Homo sapiens: one gene and its partners. The protein of the gene in region 2 purifies or fractionates together with the protein of the main gene of each other region. This does not show direct contact. Each region holds a gene or a part of one and is shown on either strand. Other genes may lie near its edges.

Evidence for each region.
Region 1: the proteins of IBSP (region 2) and METAP1 purify together in Homo sapiens (affinity purification with mass spectrometry; one large-scale study listed by BioGRID and IntAct). This does not show direct contact.
Region 3: the proteins of IBSP (region 2) and CPAP purify together in Homo sapiens (affinity purification with mass spectrometry; one large-scale study listed by BioGRID and IntAct). This does not show direct contact.

The regions. Positions count from the first base shown.
Region 1 is NC_000004.12:99,044,132-99,047,787, reverse strand, and holds part of METAP1 (methionine aminopeptidase 1), read right to left. Parts: intron 2,610-3,656; coding exon 2,478-2,609; intron 1-2,477. UniProt on the Homo sapiens protein: Cotranslationally removes the N-terminal methionine from nascent proteins. The N-terminal methionine is often cleaved when the second residue in the primary sequence is small and uncharged (Met-Ala-, Cys, Gly, Pro, Ser, Thr, or Val).
Region 2 is NC_000004.12:87,798,011-87,801,766, reverse strand, and holds the start of IBSP (integrin-binding sialoprotein precursor), read right to left. Parts: upstream 2,214-3,756; 5' UTR 2,134-2,213; intron 1-2,133. UniProt on the Homo sapiens protein: Binds tightly to hydroxyapatite. Appears to form an integral part of the mineralized matrix. Probably important to cell-matrix interaction. Promotes adhesion and migration of various cells via the alpha-V/beta-3 integrin receptor (ITGAV:ITGB3).
Region 3 is NC_000013.11:24,912,843-24,916,498, forward strand, and holds part of CPAP (centrosomal P4.1-associated protein), read right to left. Parts: intron 250-3,656; 5' UTR 184-249; coding exon 1-183. UniProt on the Homo sapiens protein: Plays an important role in cell division and centrosome function by participating in centriole duplication. Inhibits microtubule nucleation from the centrosome. Involved in the regulation of slow processive growth of centriolar microtubules.

The DNA of each region.
Region 1 (3,656 bases), about 11 Mb from region 2:
AAGGTTCTCCCTCACACTAAGACCCAGGAGCTGGGCACTGTCAGACTCCTAGAGAACCTCAAGATGGCTCTGGGGATCCTTAACTCTCTCTACTCTCCTACTCAGCCTATCTGATTCCCAGACTGAGGTTCAGATACAATGTATCTTTCCCATCCATTTCAGGGTAAATAGCTCAAGGAATCAGTTTAATTAACATTTTTACTTGCTCTTAACTGTATTTTGCAGCTTGATTTTGGGGGGAGAAGGAAGGAGGTTTCTGGTTTTGAAAAATCATGCTGACTTTCATAATTACTTTCTTTCATTCCTATCCAGGCCTTCCTATCAGCCTGGGGTGGGAGGGGGAACAATATTGTAATCCATGTTGCATAGAAAGAGTGACAGAGGAAGTCTTCCCTAATTTTCAAACTGCTCCAACTGCGGCCCCAAGGGTAGTATCTAGAGATATTAATATTTCTGGTTGTCAAACACAGGGTGGTGGTGTAACTGGCATTTACTGGGTAGAGACCAGGAATGCTTGTGGAACATCTTATGTGTATAGAACAGGTCTCTACAACAAAAAATTATCAGGCCCAAAAGCCACTAAGTGCATAGACTAAGAAACCCTACTTAAGAAGCCTAATTTCAACAGCTTTTCAAACCCTCTACCTGGGGGAGTAAGGGAGGTGCAAAATGAGGGGCAAAAATGATATATACAAAGGAATTCAAAGCACTTTCCAAAAAAGATCAAGCCACTTTCGTTCCTTCCTGGCTACTGTTATGAAAACTATTGGCAAGTTCCAGTCATACGTCATATAAAACAGCATTCTAACTATCTGGTTTTTTCTTTTTCTTTTTTTTTTTTTTTTTTTTTTGTTTCTTCAGTTGATTCACAGAGAAGCAAAAAGAATAGAAATATTGACTATATTATCTGGCAGAAACTCTAAAAATTATTTCAAACTTAAGCTTTCACAAATGACAAATTAAACATTAAATTTCTTCAATTCCACCTCCTGTATTAATGTTTTAAAATAATCAACAATGAGTAATAAGTTTTCAAAATTTCACCTGATACACAAAAATATCATATTCCTTCATTTCCATTCCTCCAACTTGAGTAAAAATTTCATCTCCCATACACATTAAAGAACGCACTAAAAACAATAAAAATACTGGATCAACATTATTAGAGATAACTGTATGTTTGTCTAAGAACTCTGTCCTGTTCACTATTCTGTTGATGACATCAAGATTTGGAGAGACTGGGGAGGATTGCAGGTAGCACACTGGTAATAAAGTTGATATGGTAAGGATTTAACCAGAAGGCTGTTTGCCCATTTATTAACAGTTTGTTAACAACTCCAACAAGATGCTGTTAAGAACTTTCCTTTCTTTTTTTTCTTTTCTTCTTTTTTTGAAATGGAGTCTCGCTCTGTTGCCCAAGCTGGAATGCGGTGGCACAATCCACTTCCCAGGTTCCAGCAACTCTCCTGCCTCAGCCTCCCGAGTAGCTGGGATTACAGGCGCCCGCCACCACACCTGGCTAATTTTTGTATTTTTATTAGAGACAGGGTTTCACCATGTTGGCCGGGCTGGTCTCGAACTCTTGACCTCAAGTGATCTGCCAACCTCAGCCTCCCAAGGTGCTGGGATTACAGGAGTGAGCCACCATGCCCAGCCCCTTTCCTTCTCTTATCCCCATAAGATACTGATTAAACAAAAAAGCCTCGATAAGTTGTTCATATGTACAAAGACAGACAGCCTGAGAAAAATCCTCCAGAAATACACCCCTACCCATTACTACAATAGTAAGAAATCTGGAAAGCACCAAAATCCAACAGAATAGTTACACAAATTGTAATACTATAGAATATAATACATAGCCATTAAAAGAATGAGGTAAATCTATGTCTGTAGGTATATATGCTAACTTGAAAAGATCTCTATGATAGTTGAAAAAACAGCCCAGTTACACATTAAAAATATTATGATTCCATTTAACTTAATTTAACACATACACATACGTGTGTGCATTAATGCACAGGAGAGAGAAAAAACCTAAACGGTAATGGGATATCTCTAGAGAGAAGAGAGAGATAAGAGGGGAGGCAAGTGTAAAGGAGGATCACACATTTTTCACTCATAATCTTCACTTTTAATTTTTTATGAGGAGAACATAATATTTATGTACTGGAAAGAATTTTAAAAATAGAATAAAAGTTGCACTAAAAAACCATCTGCACAGTCCTCTTCATTTATCAGGCAAAGAAAAGGAAGATAAATCACAGAAGAAACAAAGGATGCTAACCAATCATCTGGTCTATCACCACCAAGAGATTCCCAGATCATCCTTTTACCCATTACTGCTAACAACCAAAGCTAACTCAGGTAGAACAGGGGCAACCTGGAAGGTACAAGGAATGCACAGAACTGCAGCGCCCAGTCATTCTTGGCCCATCAACACACAGGACTGCCAATAGGTGCTCAACACTGAGGCTGACCTGCATCAATGGCTTGCATCAGGCACTCATATGTGGTCTGAACAAGTTTCCGTGCTCCATCATCCACTTCTCCAACAAAAAATGTCTCATTCAGGTCCCCATGATAACCATTGCGATAAAGAGTGATATCCACTGCAAGAGAATGTGCAAATATAAAGACCATACTTATTTTCATTTCAAAATTCAAGTGTTTTTCCAACATGACAGCATCTAGCAACTTAATGAAAAAGACAACTTCTGCATTCTCAAATTAGACACCAATGGATAGATAGTTATTGCCCAACAGAAGCTCCCTGAGATGTAACTGAACTCACTGTGGAGAGCAGGAATATGGCCATGTAACATAAGCCAGATAGTGGGTTTTTATACTCTTATAGTAATTGTATCACTTGTGGCAAAAGAAAAATGTATGTGGGACACAATCATGCAAAATAAATTACCAGAGTTAGTAACATTAAATTGAAAACTTTGCTACATTGCTACAAAATACCATTTTCACTTATCTTTTACAAGTTCCTTACTCCTGCTAGGGAATAACAGAAAAATTTACACTGCTCTACACCTGTTTTTTTAAAACTCATTTGCTTTTCTCTTATTTGTGAATATTCATTCTTCTCTTTGTCCCCATGTTTAAGAATATAGATTACTATTATACTATATATTATATACTATTATACCATTATAATGTATCTAGAGAGCACATTGAGTATTTTTAAACCACATATTTCAATCAACCTGTAACATCACAATATAGATATTTTGGTTCTAGCACAACACATACATTCCTGAAAAACCTCACACATTCTACATATAATAAAAATAACAGGCTTTATATTTGAAAAACAGGGTTGGCCTCAAAACCTATGGAACTTTATGAACAGATACCCTAACTAAAGCAGTAGCAATTCTAATAAAAATAGTGTCATAGTTAAATTTCGGCTATCATTCACAGCTAGCATCACAATCAGTCAATTATCTGCAGCCTCTAACACTTGGGCTCATGCTTCCTCATTTGATAGGTAGTTCCTTTAAGATATCTTATTAACAAAGAGTCTAATTCCATCAATATTAAAATGCCATCTAAGCCAGGCACGGTGGCTCATGCCTGTAATCCCAAGACTTTGGGAGGCCAAGGTGGGCAGATGCTTGAGTCCAGGAGTTTGAGACCAGCCTGGGCAA
Region 2 (3,756 bases):
TACTCGAGAGGCTGAGCCTGGGAGGCCAAGGTTGCAGTGAGCCGTGTTCATACCACTGTACTCCACCCTGGGCAACAGAGTGAGATCCTGTCTCAAAAATAAAACAAAAAAGCAAAAATCACTGATACCCTATAGGCGGTTTCCAGCTTCTATATAGGTTTTGGGCTAAAAATTTATTTGTAAAATGGAAAGTAGGAGCAATTTTCCTCTGAACATCTTGGAATAATTGGTGTGTGTGTGTGTGTATATGCGTGTGTGTGTGTGTGTGTGTGTGTGTGTGTGTGTATGGGTGGGTGGATGAGAGACAGAGACAGAGAGACAGAGAGGATCCATAATATATGAAATATCACACTGACATCATGTAGCACGCAACAGCAACTCCGCTAAGGATGCTTCCATGAGGAGTTCTTCAGAGTTTCGCCTTGAGATATCGGGGGCAGATTTCCTCAAATTAATTTGCTCTCCAGCTCCATTTAAGCTTTCCATCTGCTAGTGTATGAGACTGTACTGGGATGGATTAGGGGCTCTCCAGGGTTAGGGTGACAGACATGGATGAAAATTTCAATTCTATGGAACAATCGAAGATGCAGCTCTCAAAGTGGGAATAGGGCCTGAATAATCTTGGGGATTGCAGCCATAAAAAGAGCCTCAGTTCCACATAAATTCCTCATGAGTAAAAGGAGATAGTGAAATGCTATCCTATCTTAATTTTATTCTATTTAATAAAATTGTATTTAAAATTATATCATAATAGAAGTTGGGCAAGCTTAGCTGAAAGCCTACTAACACTCAGCCATTTACATTTACATACACATTTAACTGTTAGCACCTTCTCATACACAGTCACAGCTTTGGCAATATTTTGGAAGCAAAATGTAGTGGTGATGGCAATTTCCCATGAATACATTTTGAAAATAATACTTAAAATGTGCAAACCAATGTCATATATTGAAACCTGCTGGTAAATTGTGTATTGTGTCATCATCAGCCAAGATTTATTGCATCCTTACTGAGTATCTGACACTAAGTCCTGGAGATACTGTCTTGGGTCCTAAGTCACACTCTTTTTGTGTGTCAGAGTGAGTCTTTGGGTTTTGGTGCCCAGACAGTTTCTCACAGTCCTATCTTAGTAAAAGGTCTTGATGGCCCCTTGGGAATAAACAGGCTTTGCTCCTGAAGGAGCCCATCTTTTTAAGCAGCACTGATTTCTATCGGGGTGGTCTAAATAATGCTTTGAACTTTGCCAGCCGTGACCAAGCCCATCAGCAAAACAGAAAGATTATTGCTTTGCCACTTTGTGAGAAGGGTCGGAATATTTATAATATTTTAAAGAGCTAAAAGCTTAGATACATAGAATTATAGAAATAGTTTTGATTACACAAATTTCTCATAACAATAAAAATAACCAGATGAAAAGATGGCATAAATAATAATAATAACAATACAAAGAACCAAGTAGTTCTTGTAGTCAGGATTGGCTGCCTATATAAATCTAATTTTATTTACTTTGTGAGTCAACAAAAAGCCAAGACCTCTATAGTGACCACTACTAACCCAGACAACAATTCAAACATTCTTAAAGGAGAATTTTGAGGATTTAATTTCAAGTTTTATTGGGAAGGGTATGATAAACTACCAAGAGTATTTATTTCTCTAGTTAGTACAATATATTTTCTGTTCTGACTTTAGAGCTATAGGAAACATCAAAACCTAATGTTTAATATGTTGAAAAGACAACATATGTACTTGAAGTACAGACTAGGTATAATTTGTAGAGAAATATGCATATATCTAGCCAGATTTGCAAATGCAAAATAGTATTTCAATCAGGTTATCTTGAATGCATCAGAATGAGAAAACAAACAGTTAAGCTATGATTTGCAGAGAATGAAAGTAAGAAGCATAATGTAGTTTATGTGCATAGTATTAAGAACTTATTTACATGCTTAGGTTAATAAGTTTAGCCTTTTGGAAAGAATTTAAAATCTGAAGTGCCAGTTTAATGATAAATAATTATTAAACCATGTACAATGCAATAACATCATTTAAATGAAAAATTCAAAGCCAAGTTCAGAGATGTAAACTATGGAGTGTCTAATTTTATGATAATGAAGTTGTTCTATTAAATCTTACCCTCTGGCAGTCCTGGAGTGAGGAAGCAGGCTCAAGGCAGTGAGTGGCACAGATTGAGTATTTCCTCTGCCCTCTCACTCACTCATTCACTTGCTCTTGCTGGCTATAAACTCTTCTTTGCCTTCCAACAGCCAATCACTGTCACGACCAAGGTGATGTCAGAACGTGGATTCTCACCAGAAAACCCCCAAACTTCAACACTTTTTCAAGACACAGGCTCAGTTGAATAAACAAGAAACGTGATTCTAGAGCCAAGAGGTTTGCATTGTGGAATTTAATTGAAGGTTTAGATGAAGATGAATAGTTTGGGCTCCGAATATGTATAATAATATACTGGATTTGAATTAAAATAAATAACAAAGGCTTTAACCTTTTAAAAATTTCATAATTATACAAGTTTTCACTATGTCGAAAGAAAGGAAAGCTTGCTGTCATTAGATATAATTTTACATTAGTTTAGCTAAAAAAAGAAAGAAAAACTAAATAATAAGGGAAAGGAGCAGATGAACCATCAATATTTTAATATCATTTGATGTTTCCTCCTGAAATATACTTCATTGACTCATAAATTAAAGTTGATATGATTAAGTCGGTCAGACTTTGTAAGATATAGTTGCTAAAACATGATGCTGAGTATAAAAGTTAGAACTTTTGAGAATCATACCACTGAGAGGCAGATTTTATATTTTGTTTTGTAAATTAAATCTCTGTATATTGTCCATTTATGTGGCCCTTCCTGTCGTGCATGTGAGGTCAGCTCATTTTTTTCTTGGGCTTCTATATATATCTTTTCTATTCATTTTCATATTTAATTTTTTTCCTATGAGAATAACAAAATGACTAGAGCTAGCAGGAGTGATCCATTGTTTTTGAAATGATTCATGAAACCAACACCACAAAGAATGGATTGATAAACTAAAGTACTAATTTTTTAATTTACAAAGGGAAATCTAGCTTAATAGTTTGCATATTCTCCTAGTCTAGTCATTTTATTCTTCCTCCAGTTGCGAAGTCTGCTTGAGAAATCAAAAATTAATGAATATCATTTTTTTTCTTTTTTTCTCTTAATTTTTTTTATTATTATACTTTAAGTTTTAGGGTACATGTGCACATTGTGCAGGTTAGTTACATACGTATACATGTGCCATGCTGGTGTGCTGCACCCACTAACTCATCATCTAGCATTAGGTATATCTCCCAATGCTATCCCTCCCCACTCCCCCCACCCCACAACAGTCCCCAGAGTGTGATGTTCCCCTTCCTGTGTCCATGTGATCTCATTGTTCAATTCCCACCTATGAGTGAGAATATGTGGTGTTTGGTTTTTTGTTCTTGTGATAGTTTACTGAGAATGATGGTTTCCAATTTCATACATGTCCCCACAAAGGACATGAACTCATCATTTTTTATGGCTGCATAGTATTCCATGGTGTATATGTGCCACATTTTCTTAATCCAATCTATCATTGTTGGACATTTGGGTTGGTTCCAAGTCTTTGCTATTGTGAATAATGCCGCAATAAACATACGTGTGCATGTGTCTTTATAGCAGCATGATTTATAGTCCTTTGGGTATATACCCAGTAATGGGATTGCTGGGTCAAATGGTATTTCTAGTTCTAG
Region 3 (3,656 bases), on a different chromosome or scaffold from region 2:
AAAATGTGTGCCTTTAATAGGAAAGCTGGTAGAAATGTCCACAGCTGCTCGCTTCTCTTTGTCTGCTTCCAAAATAGGAAATCCACGATTTAATATGACCCCAGCCCGAGAAGGATTGGTCATCCACTGGGTTAGGAAGTTCTGCCCACTGTTTAACTCTGAAGAGGTTGGCATCAGGAACATCTTAGTCCAATGACACTATTATATTTAAACAATGCAAAGGCTAGAAGAGCTATTGATTTCCAACACCTGTAGACAAAAATAGCCAACAAAATGTATTAGGTAAAGCCATTAGATGTCCTACCAAAAATGAGCCCAAACCTCAACCCAGCATAAAAATGTCCTCAATATTTCATATACAAAAGACCTTAACTAGCAAAGCAATTGGGCATTGAGCTACATTTTTCTAAGTCTTAAAAATAACCAAATTGAGTAGATCAAAAACGTAAGATCCTTCTTGACTTAACCATTCAATTACTAATGATTTTATACAAGTGCTAGATTAGCTGAACTAAACAATGGAAGATAAAATACCTTTTAAGTTATTCACTTAAAAAAAAAAAGCCACTATCAGATATTACCCACACTAAGCACTTTCTTGCTTCTGGCCCTAGTTTAACATTGCTTCTTTGCCCAGTTGGTGAACCTGTTTTCTCCCTAGTTCTAGCACAAAAGTCAACACCAGCACTCCTGGCTTTACCTGGCAGTTTCACCTGTCCCTTCCTCTCTCGTCTCCCTACTAACACCTCACCCACCAGATAGCCCCTCATCTGTATTCCTAGAGGTAAAATAGTGACATCACTCTTCTAGCACTCATCTCATTATTAGTGGCATTTTGCTTTCATGTTCATTACTAATCCGTGAAGTTCCTTGAAGATATCTATATATTCACTACTGCCAAGCACCATGTCTGGCAGGTAGGAGAAATGTAATTCTTATGGCATAAGCCAATGAAAATTACATTGGCTCATGCCATAACTCTGTATGAATTATCAGACTTTAAAATTAACCAAATTCCTACTGTAACTTTGCACTGTGTGATAGATATACTTAAACAGGACATAACAGAGAAGATAAGCCTTGCCTCTGTCTGTGTCTGATTTTACTCAACTAACATTTATTGGGTTCTTACTCTGTGCCAGATATTGTTTTTGCCCCTGGGTACATAGCAGTTCATAAATCACAGTCTAGTGGGGAAGACACACACACACACGCACACACACATTATACAGTATGTTAAATAGCAATAAGTGCAAAGGGGAAAAATAAAAGCCACGTGGGAAAAGGAGGTTGTAACTTTAGACAAGGTGGACAGCATCCTCATTTAGAAGGTAAAATTAAGGACCAAGGGATGGAGAAGGTACAAGTTGTGCAGCTATCAGGGGCAGGGTAAGTAAAGACCCAGCCACCCAGCCTTCCTAACCTTCATCTGCAAGACACTCCCACTGACATCCCATTCCTCCAGAAACCCCCAGTTCTCAAACCCCATCACCATTACCTACCTATTTAAACCTATTATATCACTCACCACAGGAAGCCCTGAGATCCAGAGCCAGGCTTCACTTCTTACACAGTAATCCCTACACCTTATTCTGTTCCATCTCCCAAACATCCGAGCCCCAAAACACTAACAGTCCATCATCAGCAAAATCCCCATTATCCTCAACCTCTTCTCTGAGGACTCCCTCACCTTCCTGAGAACATCTGTTTGTATGGAGCCCATACTCCAGTATCACTGAGCCTGGAGACAAAACATATATTCTTATTCTTTTGCTCCTTCCAGACTACACACTCCTTTTCTAGACCATAAAAAGCAATTTTACTTGGGAGTTCTGAGGTGGCAGGATTGCTTGAGCCCAGGAGGTCGAGGCTGCTGTAAGCCGTGATTGTGTCACTGAACTCCAGCCTGGGCAACAGAACAAAACCCTGTCTCAAAAAATAAATAAATAAGTCGGGTGTGGTAACTCACGCCATAATCCCAGCATTTTGGGAGGCCAAGGCAGCCAGATCACTTGAAGTTAGGAGTTCGAGACCAGCCTGGCCAAGATGGTGAAACCCCGTTTCTAATAAAAATATAAAAAAATTAGCCAGGCGTCAGGGTGCACGCCTGTAATCCCAGCTACTCAGGAGGCTGAGGCGGGAGAATCGCCTGAACCTGGGAGGCAAAGGCTGCAGTGAGCCAAGATCACACCACTGCACTCCAGCCTAGGCAACTGAGTGAGACTCTCTCTCAAAAAATAATTAATTAATTAATTAATAATAAATTAATAAAAAGCAATTCTGACTCTCATATGACCAAACTATACAATCTACTGCCCCTCCTTTATTGTCTACCAACCTCCAGAGATCAATAGGATCTTCTCCCTCATTTCTTAAAATTTCCTGGCTGAGCACCTGGAAGAACAGATTTGCCATTCACTGAAATGCGGAAGATGGAGGATTGAAACAGGTTTTGGGGAATCAGAGACCAAGAGTTGAATTCAGGACATTTTAAGATGCCTATGAAATATGCACATAGAGACACTGGGTCAGCAGCTGGGTGCACTAGAATGGAACTCACCGAAGAGGCCAAGGCTGTGAAGCATAAATTTGGACATCCTCAGCATAAAGATGGTATTTAAAGCCTTGACACTGGATGAGATCAATGAGGGATTGAGGGTAGTCAAAAAGAGAGGAGGCGGCTGGGCGCAGTGGCTCACGCCTGTAATCCCAGCACTTTGGGAGGCCGAGGCGGGTGGATCACCTAAGGTCAGGAGTTCGAGACCAGTCTGGCCAACATGGTGAAACCCCATCTCTACTAAAAATACAAAAAATTAGCTAGGTGTGGTGGCGGGAGCCTGTAATCCCAGCTACTCAGGAGACAGGAGAATTGCTTGAACCCAGGAGGCGGGGGTTGCAGTGAGCCGAGATAGCGTTATTGCACTCCAGCCTGGGCAACAAGTGCAAGACTCCATCTCGAAAACAACAACAACAACAACAACAAAAACAGATAAGAGGCAAAAAGTGTAGCGTCCTTGAGGCTAAGTGATGAAAGTGTTTCGAGGAGGAAAGAGCTATGTTAAATGCTGTGAAACAGATGAAGGGTAAGGAGAACTGAGAACTGACCTCTGAATTTGGCAAAGCAAAGGTCATGAGAACTTCAATGAGAGTAGCTGAGGGCAGGGACAGCAAAACCTTGAGTGGAGAGGATGCATGACAGAATAAGAAATTGAAGGCAGTAGGCACAGCTAACACCAGGAGTTCTGTTATAAAGGGAAGGAATTACATAGAAAAGCAAGGTGAAGAGGAGTATTTTTTACAATAGGAGAAATAAAAGCATGTTTGTGCAGGCTGATGAGGATGGAGAAAGGGGAGAATTGCTACAGTCATGTTCTTGAGGAGATGGGAAGAGTCTAGTACTGAAGTGGAATAACATCTCACACTACTTTCCAGACACAATTCTAGACTTTATCAATATAATACAGCAAAATATATATATAATCAAAGGAAAATGAAAAAGGGCAATGTGGAGGCAAACACGTATGTCATTTCATACTCGGTGTCTAAAAAACATAAACATATAAAAAATATAAACAGAAAAAGAAATACAGATGCCAAAACATTAAAACATGCGCATTCTCACTCCACTGAAGAGATGGAAATGAAAACAGTAACAT